3 linked regions of the Homo sapiens genome follow. The protein of the gene in region 2 interacts with the protein of the main gene of each other region in a pairwise test. Each region holds a gene or a part of one and is shown on either strand. Other genes may lie near its edges.

Region 1 (7,166 bases), on a different chromosome or scaffold from region 2:
TTCAAATATTTATGAGAAATGGGAAATAGAGTCAGTAGGCAAATTTAACACACCAATTAAATTTAATACACCAAAATGTATTCATTTAAATTTAATCAAAAGTAGATCTTCTCTTAATAATATCCCCTGAGTTTTTAAAAAGCCTGAAGAATGACAATTTGCCTTCCTTCTACCTGCCTGCTTTTAAAACATCTTTCCTGATATTGTTTGGCCATTTGTATTTCCCCATGTATAATTTGCTTTTCTTATTCTTTGCTCACTTTTCTTTTGTGTATGGGGGGGCAGGGTGGAGGGAGAAATGGCTGTTTAATTGATTTGGGCAGTTCTTTATATGTTCTGAAATAATTCTTTACCTGATAAAACTGTATTTTCTCCTTTTCTGTTTTTCCTGTCCTATTTAACCAGCCAAGACGTAGACCAAAGATGAGAGTTAGAGTAAAAACTAAGGCTATAGAAAATCTGCAAAGTAAATGTTTATTTAGTAGGACCTGGAGTTTAAATGTCACAAATAAACTGGCTTAGTTTCCAGCATCATCCAAGATAGACGTTTGGTGGGTCAGGAGGTGGAAGCCCAGTATTCCTGCTCTAACTCTGTGTTCTTCCTCTGGAGGCCATCCCAACCCTAAACTTCAGTACAGTACCCAGTGGAGATCATTTGTTCTCCAACAGAAAACACAACATGTCACCTCCCCACCAGCCTGCAAAATTATGCATTTTGTATATTCCAATGGAGGCTCCAGTTGTTTTCAGTGTTATGCACTAATAAACTAACATTTTGGACCATTTGGTGATCACCATTTGTCCCAAACTAGTGATTAAATGCTAAATAGTATGTATTTTTTAGCTGGAACAATGAACTGTCGATTATCATGACTTTGATATTTGACCCCAATGAGATGAGGACAGCATAAGCATTTTTATTTAATGTTGTCTTGTAACAACTTCTGTTGAGTTTTAGTCATTGGGCTGAATAAAGTTATTCACATTTAATTTAAATTGGGCATGGTTCTTTCTCTTTGAGCTCAGGGGCCTTTTAAAATTATATCATGCATAACACATTATGATTATATGCTCTACAAAGAAATGATATCAGAAGCCACTTCAGGAGAATAGGCAGGTGATATGTTGGACAGTTAAAAAATAAAAAAAATTAAACAGGATGCTGCTGGAAATTTAAAGGAAAGCAGTTACTCTTCTTTTTTTTATTTTAATGGAGGCTTTGACCTGGTTGTATGTGCATTTTCAGAACATTTCAGTAAAGTTAGAGCAACATTTGAACAATGACCAGATAACAACCAGTCAGTGCTTTGCATTTCAGGAAACTCATAGAAGAAATGGAGGAAAAGCAGAAATCAGACAAGGCTGAACTGGAGCGGATGCAGCAGGAGGTGGAGACCCAGCGCAAGGAGACAGAAATCGTGCAGCTCCAGATTCGCAAGCAGGAGGAGAGCCTCAAACGCCGCAGCTTCCACATCGAGAACAAGCTAAAGGATTTACTTGCGGAGAAGGAAAAATTTGAAGAGGAGAGGCTGAGGGAACAGCAGGAAATCGAGCTGCAGAAGAAGAGACAAGAAGAAGAGACCTTTCTCCGCGTCCAAGAAGAACTCCAACGACTCAAAGAACTCAACAACAACGAGAAGGCTGAGAAGTTTCAGATATTTCAAGAACTGGACCAGCTCCAAAAGGAAAAAGATGAACAGTATGCCAAGCTTGAACTGGAAAAAAAGAGACTAGAGGAGCAGGAGAAGGAGCAGGTCATGCTCGTGGCCCATCTGGAAGAGCAGCTCCGAGAGAAGCAGGAGATGATCCAGCTCCTGCGGCGTGGGGAGGTACAGTGGGTGGAAGAGGAGAAGAGGGACCTGGAAGGCATTCGGGAATCCCTCCTGCGGGTGAAGGAGGCTCGTGCCGGAGGGGATGAAGATGGCGAGGAGTTAGAAAAGGCTCAACTGCGTTTCTTCGAATTCAAGAGAAGGCAGCTTGTCAAGCTAGTGAACTTGGAGAAGGACCTGGTTCAGCAGAAAGACATCCTGAAAAAAGAAGTCCAAGAAGAACAGGAGATCCTAGAGTGTTTAAAATGTGAACATGACAAAGAATCTAGATTGTTGGAAAAACATGATGAGAGTGTCACAGATGTCACGGAAGTGCCTCAAGATTTCGAGAAAATAAAGCCAGTGGAGTACAGGCTGCAATATAAAGAACGCCAGCTACAGTACCTCCTGCAGAATCACTTGCCAACTCTGTTGGAAGAAAAGCAGAGAGCATTTGAAATTCTTGACAGAGGCCCTCTCAGCTTAGACAACACTCTTTATCAAGTAGAAAAGGAAATGGAAGAAAAAGAAGAACAGCTTGCACAGTACCAGGCCAATGCAAACCAGCTGCAAAAGCTCCAAGCCACCTTTGAATTCACTGCCAACATTGCACGTCAGGAGGAAAAAGTGAGGAAAAAGGAAAAGGAGATTTTGGAGTCCAGAGAGAAGCAGCAGAGAGAGGCGCTGGAGCGGGCCCTGGCCAGGCTGGAGAGGAGACATTCTGCGCTGCAGAGGCACTCCACCCTGGGCATGGAGATTGAAGAGCAGAGGCAGAAACTTGCCAGTCTGAACAGTGGCAGCAGAGAGCAGTCAGGGCTCCAGGCTAGCCTGGAGGCTGAGCAGGAAGCCCTGGAGAAGGACCAGGAGAGGTGAGATTGGGAAGGAAGGGTGTGGCATACAGTGGGTGCCAAATGAGTGCTCATTTTTCACTCCTCATGTTGTGTTTATCCTTTTTTTTTTTTAACTTATTCTTTTAGCCTTCATATTCTTTAATACATAGGCAAATGCTTATATTTGCCAGAACTGAGAAAAGTACTCCTAAACTTCTTGTATTTCTCCTTAGTGTCCTTCTTTTAGAATTGTTAGCCTAGAGTTGAAAAACACACAAACAAAAGCAAAGCCCATGTACATTATCCCACTGTCCTATGGAATGTGCGTGTTTTAATATTTTGATAAATGCAAGACTAGAAAGTTTCCACTTTGATTTCTCCTTCTTTCTTATCTCCCTTGCCTGTCTCCCTCTCTTTCCCCTTTCTTCTTCCCCTTCAGTTCCCTCCTCTCCCTTCCATTGCATCTATTTCCTCCTCCTTTCTCTTCCTTTGCCCTCTCTCTTTCCTCTCCCTCCCCTTTCTTCCTTCCCTCCTTGCCCCTCTCTGACTTGCTCCCTGTCTCTTTCCTTCTCTCCCTATTTTCTTCCCTCCTCCCTCACCTCTTTCCATCTCTACTTCCCTGCCCTTTCTTACTAATGATTTCACATCTTCTCCATGACCAGCACTTGTTGAAATAAGTATCATCCCTGGGTTCATGGTTTGCATACAGGCTACTGATTTCTGCAACATGTTGGGAATGAAAAAATCAATACTTCTCCCACCCCTATTGAGTCACAGTATTTAAGAGAAGGCCTCAGGACTCTGCATTATAAAACAGTCAACCGAACCAACAAACAAAACTCCAGATAATTCTGAACACAGTGGGATATTAGAACATGTTTGGTGATTTACTGATAGTATTTTTGTTGTTGTGAAAAATAAAACTAGGAAATTAGCACTCTTGTCTTGTAAGGTAAGAATATTTATCTTCCTTCACCTATTTTCTGTCACCATACTTACCAGACCATAAGTTCTCAAAATGCATATTATGTGAATTTGAGGACACCTTTTCTGGAGCCTTGAAGACTTGATGGCAAGACTCACAGAAAGGCCAACAGCCACCTGGGTGATGCAAACATCACCCAATTTGGAGACTTGCAAGAGGAATTTATGGCCTGGTTCAGCCCCTTCCTATCAAGATGGTAGCATGTTCCTACCTTGGGCAGGATCTTTCATCACTGGGCCTCAGTGTCACCACTTGTACAAGAAGAGGATGGATGAGATCACAGGGTCTTGCTCTGGGTCCAGGCTGGAGTGCAGTAGTGTGATCATAGCTCACTGCAGCCTCAAACTCCTGGGCTCAAGCAATCCTCCTGCCCCAGCCACCCAAGTGGCTGGGACCCCAGGTGCATACTACCATGCCTGGCTATTTATTTATTTATTTATTTATTTTATGTATTTTATTTTTTTAGAGATGGGGTTTCCCTGTGTTGCCCAGTCTGGTCTCAAACTCCTAGGTTCAAGCAGTTCTCCCACCTGAGCCTCCTAAAGTGCCGGGATTATAGTCATGAGCCACCACTCCCTGCTCAGTTGAGATCTTAACTGAAGCTCAGATTGGAGAGATGAAACCTTGCCCTCTCCGCAGTACTCCCCCCACCCACAGCACCTCCTAAGGGGGCTTCAACAGAAGTCCAGTGTACTGGCCAGGAGACCCCACCTTGGCATTTAGCTGATGCATGGGGCTGGTTGCTGATAACAAGGAAGACCTACTCAGAAGTGTTACTGTAGCTTCACCCATCACATTGCCTGAAAAGTTCAGGACAACCTCCATTCAAATGATTGGCTTATGCTATGGATTACATTTACCATCGCTGTCTGGTAGTTCCCTCAGGCAAAACAGCAACAAAATAACAATCAAAAACCCTAATGCTGTTATTTCAGAGAAATAGGTTGGAGGTTTAAAAAAATGATTGCAGGTATGTTATGTAAATGAAATTGCTAGACAAAGATCCAGCCCCAGGAACTTTAAAGTAGTGGAGGGCACACTCTCAATTTGTAGCCTGTAGTGTGCAATAAGAATGCAGCATGAGCTTTTAGCTTGATGTCCTTGGCTTTTGTCACCTGGCCATTTAGTATTAATACTGTATAATAGCAGACACAGTATTGCAGTTTCCACGGAAGTGATTACACAATGGGAGTGTTCCTTCAGAAGCCAAGTAAAGGGGGCTGTTAGCTTCATGAGTTTTGATGAAATAGACTTAGCTAAGTCCTAATTCAGGCCGACGGATTCCGGGCTCTCTGCTCTGACTGCGATACCCCCGCAGCTTTCTATGGGAATTTCTGTTGTGCTTCATTTTCTCCCAGGGTTCTCACGGCTAAGCCAGGATTCACCGTGCAGCCTGACTTGGCCCCTCGTAAAATTCCACAAGTGTGAAATATTAAATTCATGTGGGACCAGACTGGACAACAGTGTCCTGAACTTGGCTCTCCCATTGCCTTCTCAGTGCTTTATGAACCAGGTTTAATCCATTTTCCTGCCTTTTTTCCTACCACCTGCTCATTCCAGCTGCCCCATTGACATGGATCAGGTAACCCAACTAGAAATACCTCCCATCACCATAGCAGGGATAACAGAGGCAAGTTGTTAATACTCACACTTAATCCTGTTTTCTTGTCAGAGTCCTTTAACAATGACGATGATAATAGTCATGATGAAAACCATGAAGAATAACTCTGTGTACCTCAGATCCTGCTTTAAATGCTGTGTGTGCATTGTCATTTACTCTTCCAATAAAGGGTGCCATCGTCTACAGTTTACACATGAGGAAGCTGAAGCCTGCAGTGGTTGTATAACCACTGGGGATGAGTGTCACACAGTTAGAAAGTGGCAGAGTTGCAAGTCAGATCTCAATCTCATCACCCATCTCTGATCCACTTAGCCCTCTAGTCTTCTGACCATGTATCTGCCACACGGGAAGGCCAGCTTGTCCCTTGCCATCCATATAAATCTCACTCAGACTTCAGGATACCTCTCAAACCCTTCTTTGCTCTGTGGAGTCTTTTCCACTGGCCATTGGCCCTGTGCTGAAGGACAATTCTTAACAACCCCAGCAGGAGTTTTCTTAACTGTAAACATTGCTAATTGCCTGCCTACATCCAGCTCATTTTTTTTTTTTTTTGGCCATTGATGATACCCTATTAATATTGCTCCCCAATTATTTGGCCACCACCAGGCCTCTGACATCATTTTTTTTTTTTTGCTTATGTCTTGTCTTTTGAAAATACTGTGTGTTCCACAAATTGATGCTCTAGAAGTACTTGCTAATCAATAAACCCAGAAAGGGCTGAGTTAAACTGGGCACAGCCTCGTGTGGGTCCCATGAGTGCTTACCCTCATGACCCTGTGATCCATTTCTGAAAATTCAGAACTTGGCTTTCATGTTCAAGATAGAGCAGTCAAATTGCTGCTGGTGACACCAGAGGGTTGACAGCATCATGGTGTGTTGGCATCTGAAGCCAGAATCTCTGATTTTTAGAGCTGAAGGAATTGAGGGAGATTAGTTGACGCTCTCATTTGATCCATGAAGAAATTGAGACCCGTGTTTAAATAACTTCCCCAAGCTCACACAGTGAGTGGACTGCAGTCTCCTGCTTCCTGGGGCCAAATTCACTGGCAAGGTTGGCCCTCTGGCCTGATGGGGCTGGATTCAAGTATGCCTGGGCCGGTGGGAGAATGACCTTACACACATTTGACCTCATATAGATGTATCACTTATCACTGGAGGTTAATTTTATGGTTTATTTTAGTTTCTCATGGAACTCAACCTACTTTCCTAGGCCTGTCTTTTCTGCTTCCCCTTCCCATGCCCTCTGCCTTAGCCCAAAGTGGATGCCTGGTTTTCATGCCCTTGCCCCATTGCTCGTATTGCTTTCTGCACTTAGATAATCTTCTGCCGTCATCTCCAAATGACAACATTCCCACTGGCCTCTGGAGACTCAACTTAGAACTGCCATGGCTATGAAATTTCTCCTAGATTGGTGGTTTTTAAAACTCTTTAAAACATAGATCTTTTTCATCAAACGTAAGTATTTACCAGAACCCTGATGTGTAGTCCACAACCAACTCTTTTTGAAGCAGCAGTTAGAGGCCTCAGAATCCTATACACCTACCTCTAGGACTTGCTTGGAGCACAGTGGAGAGATCTTTGCTCTTGGTAGTCAAAATTACTCTACCTTCTGGATGCCTGCAGTGCTCGTCCTGGACCCTTCTTGTGGCCCATGGCACTTTATGTCTTGTCTTATGGGTATGTGGCACCTTTTCTACTAGAAGGTAAAGTTCTTTGCACACAGAGGACAGATCTTGTTCCCCCATGCTATCTAAAGCAATGTCTCACACAGTAAGGATGCTCGGGAAATACTATTAATGAATGAATTATGTGGCTCCTATCTGTGTAGGTTAGAATATGAAATCCAGCAGCTGAAACAGAAGATTTATGAGGTCGATGGTGTTCAAAAAGATCATCATGGGACCCTGGAAGGGAAGGTGGCT
Region 2 (7,000 bases):
CTACTCAGGAGACTGAGGCAGGAGAATCGCTTGAAGCTAAGACGGGGAGGTTGCAGTGAGCTGAGACTGAGCCACTGCACTTCAGCCTGGGCAATGGAGTGAGACTCTTGTCTCGAAATATATATATATATTTGACCTGCAGTGGGTTGAATCCATGGATGTGGAACTTGTGCATATACAGATCTGACTGTACATATATGTGTGTGTTTGTGTGTGTGTGTATGTATAGCTTTCATAGCTTCCTGCTACCTATTGATTTTGGAAACTCCTCGCTGTGCTGCATCTGCCATGTCTCACACCATTACCCTTCCCATTCTTACACCTTAGCCAACAGGACCACTTTGCAATTCATACCCCAAACCTGTGCTTTCCCACCTCTGTCAGCAATTGCCCCAGTCTTAAAAAGAATGATTGTCTGGTATCACCATGATGGTCGCGTATGTGAATTAAACGTGTGCTCTGGTGCAATGGTAATGGGCAGGGCCTCTGTCTCACTCTAGGTTGTGAAATTATGCCGGGAGTGCCTGGAGAAGCAGGAGCCAGTGTTTGCTGACACCAACATCTACATGCTGCGGATGCTGAGCATTGTTTCGGAGGTCCTTTCCTACCTCCAGGCCTTTGAGGAGGCCTCGTTCTATGCCAGGAGGATGGTGGACGGCTATATGTAGGTGACGATTCTAGGTCTCAGATAGTCTCCTGGAAGTGTGTGTATTCCAGGGATGGCAAATAGATGGCACATTTACTGGTGCCTCTCCCTCCTATACCCACAGCAGGCGTCAGTAATCCATCATGGTTCTCTTTTTGACTGAGTCTTTTTATCATGGTGCTCCAGTGTTAATGACCAATCAGAGTTTGTGCTTGAGATGAAACCTATTTGTCATCCCTGGTCTTTCCCAAATTCTCCAGCACATCTATCACTTGGGTGGCATCTTCTGCTTTTGACTTCCTTCAGGCTAACCCCAGCTTGATTTTAAGTGATTGGACCCTGCCCTCCACCCTGTAATCAACACAGGCAAGTCTAGGAGCTTTTATTTATTTATTTATTTATTTTTAAAAGAGCCATCAATCACTTTGCTTAAAAATTGTAAAATTCTGGCCAGGCGCGGTGGCTCACGCCTGTAATCCCAGCATTTTGGGAGGCCGAGGCGGGAGGATCACGAGGTGGGGAGATAGAGACCATCCCGGCTAACATGGTGAAACCCCGTCTCTATTAAAAAATACAAAAAATTAGTCAGGCATGGTGGAGGGCACCTGTAGTCCCAGCTACTTGGGAGGCTGAGGCAGGAGAATGGCGTGAACCTGGGAGGCGGAGCTTGCAGTGAGCCTAGACTGCGCCACTGCACTCCAGCCTGGGCGACAGAGCAAGACTGTCTCAAAAAAAAAAAATTGTAAAATTCAATTCCCTTGCCTTCCATCTGCCAATACCCTCTCTTGCTTTCTGTGTTTATGTTGTCATGCAAATTTGTGTTTCTGGCCAAATAAGTTGACACACGTTCATTTCTTTGAGAGGATGTTAGTCATAAACAAAATGTAGATAAACTGTACAACATGCTAAGGAAGCCCTGCAAAAGGGTGCCAACCAGGTGAAAATACAATGCTGTCTCAAAAAGGACATTTAAATTATTTTTTTCTCCCTTGACCTTCCTACCACTTTTTGGGGAGACGTCTGAGGTACTCCCAAATGCTGTGAGCTTCCTGTGCTCAAGCTCAGATAATATGGAGTCTACAGAGGCAGGGAGGCCTCCTTGAGCTGCAGTGGGCTCCTCCCAGTTCGAGCTTCCCAGCGGCTTTGTTTACCTACTCAAGCCTCAGCAATGGCGGGCGCCCCTCCCCCAGCCTCGCTGCCGCCTTGCAGTTTGATCTCAGACTGCTGTGCTAGCAATGAGCGAGGCTCCATGGGTGTAGGACCCTCCGAGCGAGGCGTGGGATATAATCTCCTGGGGTACCATTTGCTAAGACCATTGGAAAAGCGCAGTATTAGGGTGGGAGTGACCCAATTTTCCAGGTGCTGTCTGTCACCCCTTTCCTTGGTTTGGAAAGGGAATTCCCTGACCCCTTGCACTTCCCAGGTGAGGTCATGCCTTGCCCTGCTTCGGCTTACACTCGGTGCGCTGCACCCACTGTCCTGCACCCACTGTCCGACAATCCCCAGTGAGATTAACCTGGTACCTCAGTTGAAAATGCAGAAATCATTCGTCTTCTGCGTCGCTGACGCTGGGAGCTGTAGACTGGAGCTGTTCCTATTCGGCCATCTTGGCTAGAGTCCCCAAGCTCAGAAAGTATGATCCTGGTCCCTTTTTCTCACAAGGAGTTGGCTGGGCAGCCCAGGCCGGAGTTTCAGCTGTCACAGCCTCACTGTGTAGAATGTTTGGCAACTTGTTCCATATCTCTGTGCCTCAGTTCCCCCTTGGCGGCTACAGAAGCCTTGCAGTGCTGAGGGGAAGACAGATGGGCTTAATCAACAAGGGCACTTTATACATTATTAAATTAAGTGCAGATATAAGGGTGATTGGTATGATGTATAATTATCTGCTATGCTCCCACAGGAAGCTCTACCACCCCAACAATGCCCAACTGGGCATGGCCGTGATGCGGGCAGGGCTGACCAACTGGCATGCTGGTAACATTGAGGTGGGGCACGGGATGATCTGCAAAGCCTATGCCATTCTCCTGGTGACACACGGACCCTCCCACCCCATCACTAAGGACTTAGAGGCAAGTAGCGTCTTGAGGCTGGTGTTCCCTTCCTGGCCTGAGCTTTCTGAGGATGGGAGTGTGAGTTCAGGTGGACTCTGCTTTAGAAAAGTCCACATACTCCCAGCTAGACAAAAGGGAACTCAGAAACGCTTTAGCCCACTACCCTTGTGTGTTAGACTGTTCATGTTACCCTAAATGAATACCTGAGACTGGGTAATTTATAAAGAAAAGAGGCTTATGTTGGTTCATGGTTCTGCAGACTGTATAGGAAGTGTGGTGCTGGCATCTGCTTCTGGTGAGGGCCTCAGGAAGCTTCTAATCATGCCAGGAGGGAAAGGGAGCCAGTGTGTCACCTGATGAAAGAGGGAGCAAGAGAGAGAGGCAGAGGTGCCAGGCTTTTTTCAACAAGCAGATCTGGTGTGAACTCAGAGCGACAACTCACTCCTACCAAGTGGGTGGCACTAAGCAATTCACGAGGGATCTGCTCCCATGACTCAAGCACGTCTACCAGGCCCCACCTCCAACACTGGGGATCACATTTCAATGTGAGATTTGGAAGGGACAGATATCCAAACCATATCACCTTGCTTCACACATGAGGAAACTGAGGCCCAGGGAAGGAGGACAATCTGTCCATAGTCACATAGCGAGCTAATGGCAAAGCTAAGACTTGAAGCCTGAGTCTGTTGAATCATAACACCCCAAGCCTGGACTGAGGAAGCGTAAACAATGGGGTGTGCATGTGTGCGTGTGTGCATGCACACAGCCATTTATATTAGAAAGTATTCTGTGTAACATGGAGTGGAGTTAGGGATCACAGGCTCTGGAATCAGACCTCCAGGTTGAGTTCCAGCTTCACCGCTTTCTGGTTGTGTGATTTTGCAAATATTGAATGTATGGCTGTCAGTCTCCTCATCAGTAAAATAGGGGGAAAGGATAGGGTTGTGATGCGTGTTCATGAGTCAATGTGTGAAATGCACTTAGTGCCTGGCAAATGGTGCTGCTGATGTCCTTGGTGCTTTGAAAAGCTGGTTTATTTGAGAGTGACAGGGCTGTCCTCAGACAGTACAGTCTAGGGAAGGTGGACAGACTTTGGTGTTATAAAATGTAGGATGACTATGACATTTAGGACTGGCGTGGTCTCAGACATGGATGTCCTCTTACTATTCAGATCCCAGGTTTCCTCATCTATAAAATGGAAATAATATATTAGCCCCTTAAAATTGGCAGGAGGACCAAGTGAGGGGCAGAGAAGCGGACTAACTAGCTTTATGTTTAGGGTACCGAGCCTGTCAAAGGCAGAGCCTTTGTCAATTTTACTCACAGCTGTATCCTCGGCCTCTGAATGCCTGGCCCTTAAGAAGTATTTCTTGAATGGACATGTGGGAGGATGAGGGCTCTTCTGTGTGTCACACACTGTCATCTTCCCAACCCACGGTAAGGTATGAAGCCACAAAATGGGTGAGAAAACTGACGGCTGAAGCGATTATGTCTCTTGCCTGAGGTCCCACACTAGTATCTGCAGGGGCCAGGGTTCAAATCCAGGTCCCCACTGGGCAGTTCCTGGGAACAAGCATTCTTTTCTGAGAACGGTTCCTTCAGCTACTCTCTCAGGGTTCTGACTCCCTCTCCCTGACAAAGTGGGCCCACTGCCAGGACATTAGGCCCTTGATGAATGAGTGTGTGTGTGTGTGTGTGTGTGTGTGTGTGTGTATTCTGAGGGGGTAGAGTTGAATCTCCGTGGCTGGAAATAATTTACCCCAAGGTATATCAGAGACCAGCATGTCCTAGGGGCTTGCTATCACTGTTTACGGTGTATCTGTGTCCCACAGGCCATGCGGGTGCAGACGGAGATGGAGCTACGCATGTTCCGCCAGAACGAATTCATGTACTACAAGATGCGCGAGGCTGCCCTGAACAACCAGCCCATGCAGGTCATGGCCGAGCCCAGCAATGAGCCATCCCCAGCTCTGTTCCACAAGAAGCAATGAGGACTGCCCAGTGGAGGAGGGGCGATGTGGCTGGGGAGCTAGGGAGAGACTCTGGAGGTGGTGGGTCTCTCGGGAGACCCCTAATGAGGAAGTTGAGGTAATGCTTAACATTGTTGCTGTGAGAATTTACTGCCCTATGTTTCCCAGAGCCATTTTGGCTCAATTCAAGTCTATTCAATTCAAGTTAACTCTAGCCCAGCCCAGATCAACTCCTCCTACAAATATTATTGGATGATAGGCCCTAGAACCCAATAAAGGAGCTCCAAATGTCGTTGGGTGGGGAAGCAAAATGTAGAGAAACATTTAAAGCACACTGTAATAATAAATGCAATTATAAACTATATGGAGGAGGGTGCAGAGGAGGGAATGTGTCTGGTGTGTGATGTGTGTGTGTGCAGTGGGGGTATCACAGAGAGTATGACATCTGAGTTGAGGGTAGCAGGTGCCTGGAGTCTCAGGTGGCTGCTCACCCATCTGTGCAGGTGTCTCTGGGGCTGCTGGTCTCACCTGTGGTCTGCAGTAGACACAATTGGCTGAGCAGGATATGTGATACTGTGTGGTTGGTGTGGAGTTTTGAAGAAGGGGCTGTGTTTGGGCCACGTAGGCTCTACTCAGAGACCTGAAACCACTTCAGAATGGTGCATATGTCGAAAGAGCTGGCTGGGGGCCTTGCCCAAACCAACTGAGGTCTTAAAGTCCAGGGAAAAAAAGTCTGGGTTCCAACTAGAATTCTAGAAATATTTCTAGAACACACAGAGAGGGAATAAGTCCCTCTATCACCCTTATTACCAAGCCTTGTGGTTCCCTGTGATTTTAGATAATGTCTGATATTTTTCTGGCTATTTGCCTAGTAGGATTTAAAAAATATTTTCAAAGTGAAGCTGAGAGAGAATCTTGGAAACACACATACCTGTTGATCATGGGCCCTGCAGAATTGGCCCTTGGGGGCTTTATTTGGTTACATGTGCCTGGGTGGTCTTTACCAGCTTAGACTCTATCATGGGCCCCCATGAAGCTCCATTCTCAATACTGAATAATTATTACTTCCCTTGTTGAGTTTCTTTTTCTGTCATGCCCTGGGGGCTTCTGCTCTTCTCACCAGAAAGAACATTTGAATCTGGATTCTTGTACACCTGGGTTAGACCCTGTTCAGAGGTGTGGCCAATTTATCCCGATCTCCTGGAAGGCTGTTGTGATTTCCATCTAAGAAATGAGGGTCTTGAGAATCAACCAGTCCCAAGATTAGCCTGTTATCCTGTTATCTACTGAGACCCCAAATTTCTCACCAATGTTTTGGGAGATCCTGGAAAAGATCCCTTCAGTTTGGGGTGTCACCAAGACTTCTACACAACCCAGGACTACCATTGACCTCAGAGCTGTACCCCACATCTTGAAGTAAATTGATCCCACCAGGTCCCACGTTTGTTATCTCTGCCTAAATGTTAGCTTCTCCATCCTCACCACATGATGACCTGCTGTGTCCCTCTGAGCACTACCCAGTGGCTGAAAACTCTGCAAATGGGCCACACTTTTGCAAAATACTTGTATCTGACACTTAGGTCTTGTTTGAAGAATTTCCTTTCTGGAAGGTTTTACAAGAAGACTGATAGTCTTTCAAGCCCCCACATCACAGGCTTAGGGACGGCACTAACTTTCTCCCAGGGATCTAACTGGCTAGTTCAAATTATCACTCTTTTACCTTCATATAAAATGTCTCCCCCAAACCTTTTTCCCTTCTTTGTCATTGTTATCTGCTAAGCCCCTGGTCATTTCCCCATATTCGTAGTCTTTTTTTCCATCCTATCTTTCTAATATTTGTTGTCTTTAACAAACTGTGTTCTGTGTCTGTGCTCCTCCTTCCCTCTCAGACCACTGGAATGCAAGTCCTTCTTCCCTTTGGAATGTACTCTGGATCCCTTCCCCTGCTTTGACCCCCAGACTTTGCTCCATCTATTATTGCTTCTCCATCCTGGATCCTTGACATTTGTCACCCCACTGGCCTTCTCAGGTGCAATCAGTAAAAATGCTGAGAACTCTTGGATCTTAATCTTCATGACTGAGTTTTTTTTAGTTGTATAGTTATCATCTGCCTTTCTTCACTTTGCATTTCTTCTTGAATCCATTGCAGATTGACTTCCACTCCCACTCCTTCACTAAAAGGGCTCTTACCAAGATCAAATCTAATGGGTACATTTTAGTTCCTATGTGATTTGGCCTTTCGATGTCAATCATCACTCCCAGCCATTGATTTTGGTGACCCACTTCCCTGTGATGATCTTCTGATCTAGTTTCTCAGGTTCCTTCGCTGGTCC
Region 3 (7,166 bases), on a different chromosome or scaffold from region 2:
CCACTACCTCCTCTGCGCTAGGACTCCTCACTTCAGCTTTTGATTCTCTTCTTTTTCTACTCAATCCAAAATGGACACACAAGAACACAAGATACTCTAGTGTCTTTATTATGATTTTGATTACTATAGGGTCTACCCTACCTGTTATAATTCTCATGAGCCATTCTGGTTGTGGTTTTCTCTTAGTTCAAAGCCAGATTCTTCCAGGGAAGTACCAGCTATACAGCTGTGCCTTGATTTAAGCCACCATTCTGTTTCAGGAAGTGTTCCATAACTGGTGTTTTGTGTAAGTGAAAACTGAATGCATATAGTACACCAAATATGTTGTTTGCAGTACTGTATGTTACACTGAAATATCAAGCTGATGCCGAGAATGTGAAGGACATCAAGCCACCTAAACGAAAGTAAAATGCTTCCTTACAGCTTTTAATACTTATAAATGTGCCTGCCTTATATTCCCATCTGGCAGTATTCATCCTCACACTGGACTGCTTTGTTCCTTATGCTTTATTTTCCTTATCTCTAAAGTGTTATTGTGTCTTTATATAATAGGACACAAATGAGGTTAAGTAGACGTCAAGCATTGCCATCATAAAGTGTTCTCCAGCTTGGATTTGGTGGTGTTCTCGGTGGGCCACAATTTGTAAATGGTAGTTTAGCACCTGGCCATGCAAGCAGTGCCTCCCAGGCCATTTCAGCTGTGTCCTGGATGAACCTGGAAGGCGAAAGGTGGAACTATCACATAGGCAACTGACACACCGATCACAAAGGATCCAAATTATGGATGCAGTTCTAAAGCACTGGTTTTCATACATTTTTTTAAGTGGCAAATACATTCTGAAATTGTATTTAAACCCCAAAATGTAAAAGTATAGAATCACAGATACACTGGTTTCCTCATCGCTAACTAGAATTAGGGCTCTGCAAAAATAGATTGAAAACAGTGAATGTTAAATGATTCAGTCTTTGTCCCAGTTACCCCATTGTCTAGGAGGAGCATTACTTCACATCAAAATCACCTCCATGAAGTTGAAGTCATGATAAAAGCTGCTATTTATTGAGCCCTTACTTTGTTCTAGTTATAATGTCAAGTGCACTTTTTCATTTAGTCATAAACTTGCTGGGTAGGTGCTTTTTTGCTTTTTTCTTCTCTTTTTGAGACAGGGTCTCTGTCACCCAGGCTGTGGTGCAGTGCACAATCTCGACTCACTGCAACCTCCACCTCCCAGGCTCAAGCAATCCTCCCACCTCAGCCTCCCGAGTAGCTAGGACTACAGTTGCGCCACCATGCCCAGCTAATATTTTGTATTATTATTATTATTATTATTATTATTATTATTATTATTTGTAGAGACAGTTTCACCATGTTGCCCAGGCTGGCCTCAAACTCCTGGGCTCAAACCATCTGCCCACCTTGGCCTCCCAAGGTGTTGGCATTACAGGCATGAGCCACTGCGCTCGGCCCAAGGTGCTTTTTTTCTCATGAGAAACTAAGACTTAGAGAAGTTAAATAACTGCCTGAGGACAAGCAGCATTCTAGGAAGTGGAGTTGCATTAATTTGTCTCACCCCGGACATCCATCCCCTAACATTTGCTCTATGCCCTGCCTATGCATAACACCTAGCACGTAGTACTCTTACGTACTCTCTGCACTGTCTTCACTTTGTTACATAGGAGGAAACCAGGCTCATGTAAGTTAAGTAACTTGCCTGAGATCACATAGCTGATAAGTGGCAGAACCGGGATTCAAACTCAGAGGTTGGCCTTATTGAAGAATTCATATTTCTACCCGTCATGCCATGCTGCCTCCATTGACCCTCTTAAGGGGCTCTTCAAGCAGTATTGCTTTCAGGGTCTGCGTGGCCTCAGTTAGTTAGATTTGCTTGTTAAAAGGAAATGGTGACACGTATTAAAATGCTTCTGAATTTTAAAAATCATGGTGTAAAATCCCTGCGATCACATTGCTCTAAATGTATGGACTTGAGGTTTATTTTTGCAATTCATCGTGTAGCATTTACATAGGAATCCTGTCCTGTCCTTAGCAGATCAGGAGTAATACTTAAAAACACAGATAGAAGGCTGGGCCCGGTGTTTCACGCCTGAAATCCCAGCACTTTGGGAGGCTGAGGCAGGCAGATGACGAGGTCAGGAGATCAAGACCATCCTGGCCAACATGGTGAAATCCTGTCTCTACTAAAATACAAAAAAGCCAGGTGTGGTGGCGTGCGCCTGTAGTCCTAGCTACTCAGGAGGCTGAGGCAAGGGAATCACTTGAACCCAGGAGGCGGAGGTTGCAGTGAGCCAAGATCGTGCCACTGCACTCCAGCCTGGCGACAGAGCAAGACTCCGTCTCCAAATAAAATAAAATAAAATAAAATAAAATAAAATAAAATAAAATAAAATAATAAAATAAAATAAAATAAAATAAAATAAAAATAAAAATATAAAAATAAAAATAAAATATAACAGATGTGATTCCCCTAAGAGTAAAGGGTGATGGATGTGTTAAAGGGTCTCTAGTGCCCACACAGGGAGCTGAGTTAAAAATTGTCAACAGAATATTCTGGGAAATAACTTGAGCAGTTATTTCAGGAAAGCAGCACAGTCAAAGGCTATTCCTGCAGTCCCCATACCCATAATCCTGGGAGCAGTGGTGCTGCTGGGTAGCTTGCAGGAGCTGGTTACAATTTATAATGAGCCTGTCCACCTGGTCTTGAGGAGAAAGCTGGGCTGAAAAGTTAAGCTCAGGAGACCTTCTGCCCTGTGTGGAGGGGGCTGTTAGTGACTGAGGGAGCTTTCTGGGCTCCCTGGGGAGAAGCTGAGCTGTTGGAAGAGACAAAGGCTGGGGGAGGGGATAACCTTTGTTCCAAGGCTGACTTGGAGGAGGAAACATTCCCCTCTCTATTTTCACATGACCTAAAGGGTTAGGGGAGTGAGCCTCATTTATCCCCAATCTCTGACCCATGTCTCTCATCCAACCAAGAGATGGAAAAAATAAAGCTATCAGGTTTGGGCTTAGGGCTTAAAGGTACTGTCAGTCGCCTTCCCCCAACACTCCACCACCAAGAAGGGAAAGAAAAAAGGGGGGCTGGGCAGAGGACAGTGCTGTCCTACCTTCCAGATATTCATCAGTTGTATTCCCAATCTGTTGATCCACATTCTAAATATAAATTGTTAGCAGCCAAAGAGTTAGTAACAAGCCAGGAACAATGTTGTGCACCTGTAGTTCTAACTACTCAGGAGGTTGAGGCAGGAGGGTCACTTGATCCCAGGAATTCGAGGCTGTAGTGCATTATGATTGCACCTATGCATAGCACGCCAGCCTGGGCAACATAACGAGAACTTGTCTCTAAAAAAAAATAGTGGCCAGGCGCGGTGGCTCATGCCTGTAATCCCAGCACTTTGGGAGGCCAAGGCAGGTGGATCACCTGAGGTCAGGAGTTCGAGACCAGCCTGGCCAACATAGCATTAGATATGAGTTCTAAATTTCTCTTCAAAGAATCAATATGTCAGTATGTTCAATTCTTTGCCTTCTACTTTTAAACTTAACTTCCTTGTAAAGCAACCTTTTTCGATCACCTGCTCCACCCTGACTCATTCCGATTACCTGCTCTGCCCTGACTCATTCTCCACCCTGACTCCTTCCGATTTCCTGCTCTGCCATAACCATTTTCCCCACCAAACCACTCACCCGGTCACTCTCTTTAAATTAGCCAATCGGAATTAGTTTAGCCTGTGCGGTCTAACCCTAGCCAATATGGGAATGACAGCGGCAGGGGCCACCTGTGTCAGGAATAAGAACTTCTTCCCCTCTTTTGTCCAGGTGTGTGCTCACCACTGCTCCATCTATGAGGGCGCACCCTTCTATAGAAGTAAATTGCCCTACTGAGAAGAAAAAAAAAAGAAAATTTTATATTCGATTGCTATTTCTTTTGTGGCACCGAAACTTTATTTATAACAATAGTGAAACTTCGTCTCTACTAAAAGTACAAAAATTAGCTGGGCATCATGGTGCACGCTTGTAATTCCAGCTACTCAGGAGGCTGAGGCAGGAGAATCACTTGAACCCGGGAGGTGGAGGTTGCAGTGAGCCAAGATCACGCCACTGCACTCCAGCCTGGGTGACAGAAAGACTCTGTCTCAAAAAAAAAAATAGTTATTAACAATTCTGGCCAGGCGCCGTGGCTCACGCCTGTAATCCCAGCACTTTGGGAGGCCGAGGCCGGTGGATCACTTGAGGTCAGGAGTTCGGGACCAGCCTGGTTAACATGGTAAAACCTCGTCTCTACTAAAAATACAAAATGTAGCAGGGCATGGTGGCACACGCCTGTAGTCCCAGCTATTCAGGAGGCTGAGGCACAAGAATCACTTGAACCCAGGAGGCGGAGGCTGCAGTAAGCTGAGATCATGCCACTCTACTCCAGTCTAGGCAACAGAGCAAGATCCTGCTCAAAAACAAACAAACAAACAAACAATTCTGAGGGCCGGGTACAGTGGCTCACTCCAGTAATCTCAGCAGTTTGGGAGGCTGAGGTGGGAGGATCACTTGAGGCTAGGAGTTTGAGACCAGCCTAGGCCACATAGTGAGACCCTGTCTACAAAAAATTTTAAAATTAGCCGGATATGGCTGCATGTACCTGTAGTCCTAGCTACTTGGGAGGCTGAGGTGGGAGGATTGCTTGAGCCTAAGAGTTCAAAGCTGCAATGAGCCATGATCATGCCACTGCACTCCAGCCTAGGCAACAGAGTGAGACCCTGTCTCTTGAAAAAACAAAAACAAAAATGCACACACACACAAACCAGTTGAAATTATTGCTCCTCTTGTTTTTGTGGTTGAGTCTTCACTATGTGATTCTTGTTCCATGAATTTAGAAGGTGAGAGTTGGTGGATAGCTTCTAGAAGTGGGTTTGAATAGGAAAGATAAAGGCTGTATCAGAGCTATGATGGTGCCACTGCACTCCAGCCTGGGTGGCCTGGGTGACAGAGCAATATTATCTCTTTAAAAAAAAACAACCCACCAGCTGGGTGTGGTGACTCATGCCTGTAATTCCAGCTTTGGGAGGCCAGAGGCAGGTGGATCACGAGGTCAGGAGTTCAAGACCAGCCTGGCCAAGACGGTGAAACCCCATCTCTACTAAAAATACAAAAAGTAGCCGGGCGTGGTGGCGGGCACCTGTAATCCCAGCTACTCGGGAGGCTGAGGTAGAGAATTGCTTGAACCTGGGAGGTGGAGGTTGCAGTGAGCCAAGATCATGCCACTGCACTCCAGCCTGGGCGAGAGAGTGAGACTCCATCTCAAAACACACGCACACACACACAGACACACACATACACACTAAAAAAAGCTATATCAGGATCAGTTTTCCTTCTTAACTTCTAAAGACAGATTTTTTTTTTTTTTGATAGGGTCTCACTCTATCACCCAGGCTGGAGTGCAGTGGTGCAATCATAGCTCACTGCAGCCTCAACCTCTCAGGCTCAAGCAGTCCTCCTGCCTCAGCCTCCCAAGTAGTTGGGACGACAGGCACGAACCACCATGCCCAGCTGATTTTTAAATTTTTTGTAGTCTCACTGTGTTGCCCAGGCTGGTATCAAAGCTCTGGGCTCAAGCAATCCTCCCACCTCGGCCTCCCGAAGTGCTGGGATTACAGGCATGAGCCACCATGGCTGGCTTTAAAGACAGATTTTTTTCTTGGAACAACACTCACCAGTCATGTGGCTTGGGGTAATTTAACGTCTATGGACTTTGGTCCACAGAAAATGGGAATTAAAGCAGGGTCTGATGACTTAAGTTTATGAAAATTAAATAAGAAATTGTTGAGGCACTTAAAAAGCAATACAACATGATACAAATACAGATTAAATTGTTCTGGTGTCCAGCAGTTAGTTTGGTAGAAATTGAGCAGTGTGTCAGAAGAGGAGACCCAGTGATTGAGCTGTTTGTCTTCTTATTGCAGCTATCTCTGAAGGGCACAAATCAGAAGGCACCATGCCTCCTAATAAAGAGGCCAGCGGTCTCAGTAGTTCACCAGCGGGGCTCATCTGCCTCCCTCCAATCTCTGAGGAGCTACAGCTTGTGTGGACGCAAGCAGCCCAGACCAGTGAGCTAGACAGCAATGAACACCTGCTCAAAACCTTCAGCTACTTTCCCTATCCCAGCCTAGCAGACATTGCCCTTCTCTGCCTACGTTATGGGTTGCAGATGGAGAAAGTCAAGACTTGGTTTATGGCCCAGCGCCTCCGCTGTGGTATTAGCTGGTCATCTGAAGAAATAGAAGAGACTCGAGCCCGAGTAGTCTACCGTCGGGACCAACTCCATTTCAAATCCCTTCTCTCTTTTACTCATCATGCGGGACGGCCCCCAGAGGAGGTGCCTCCTCCTCCAGTGCCAGCTCCAGAGCAAGTTGGTATTGGAATAGGTCCTCCAACTCTTAGCAAGCCTACCCAGACGAAAGGATTGAAGGTAGAGCCTGAGGAGCCCTCTCAGATGCCACCACTGCCACAGAGTCACCAGAAATTAAAGGAGTCCCTGATGACACCTGGCAGTGGAGCATTCCCCTACCAATCAGATTTTTGGCAACATCTTCAAAGCAGTGGCCTCTCAAAGGAGCAGGCAGGCAGGGGTCCCAACCAGTCACATGGCATAGGTACTGCTTCCTGGAACCACTCCACAACCGTCCCCCAGCCACAAGCTCGGGATAAACCCCCACCAATTGCATTAATTGCCAGTAGTTGTAAGGAGGAGTCAGCATCTAGTGTTACTCCCTCTTCTTCCTCTACCTCTTCTTCTTTCCAGGTACTGGCTAATGGAGCTACTGCCGCCTCTAAACCCCTCCAGCCACTAGGCTGTGTCCCACAGTCAGTGTCACCCAGTGAACAGGCATTACCCCCACATCTGGAACCAGCCTGGCCCCAAGGGCTACGGCATAACTCAGTACCAGGTAGAGTTGGCCCCACAGAGTACCTTTCCCCAGATATGCAACGCCAGCGAAAGACCAAGCGCAAAACCAAAGAGCAGCTGGCTATCCTTAAATCCTTTTTTTTACAGTGCCAGTGGGCACGGCGTGAGGATTACCAAAAGTTAGAACAGATCACTGGTTTACCTCGGCCTGAGATCATTCAGTGGTTTGGTGACACACGCTATGCCTTGAAGCATGGGCAACTA

What was found.
Region 1: the proteins of SMYD1 (region 2) and KIF16B interact in binary tests that used the Homo sapiens proteins (3 or more experiments, as listed by UniProt).
Region 3: the proteins of SMYD1 (region 2) and HOMEZ interact in binary tests that used the Homo sapiens proteins (3 or more experiments, as listed by UniProt).

What each region holds. Positions count from the first base shown.
Region 1 is NC_000020.11:16,374,316-16,381,481, reverse strand, and holds part of KIF16B (kinesin-like protein KIF16B), read left to right. Parts: intron 1-1,318; coding exon 1,319-2,677; intron 2,678-7,072; coding exon 7,073-7,166. UniProt on the Homo sapiens protein: Plus end-directed microtubule-dependent motor protein involved in endosome transport and receptor recycling and degradation.
Region 2 is NC_000002.12:88,105,825-88,112,824, forward strand, and holds part of SMYD1 (histone-lysine N-methyltransferase SMYD1), read left to right. Parts: intron 1-500; coding exon 501-664; intron 665-2,546; coding exon 2,547-2,715; intron 2,716-4,529; coding exon 4,530-4,688; 3' UTR 4,689-7,000. UniProt on the Homo sapiens protein: Methylates histone H3 at 'Lys-4' (H3K4me), seems able to perform both mono-, di-, and trimethylation. Acts as a transcriptional repressor. Essential for cardiomyocyte differentiation and cardiac morphogenesis.
Region 3 is NC_000014.9:23,275,980-23,283,145, reverse strand, and holds part of HOMEZ (homeobox and leucine zipper protein Homez), read left to right. Parts: intron 1-5,958; coding exon 5,959-7,166. UniProt on the Homo sapiens protein: May function as a transcriptional regulator.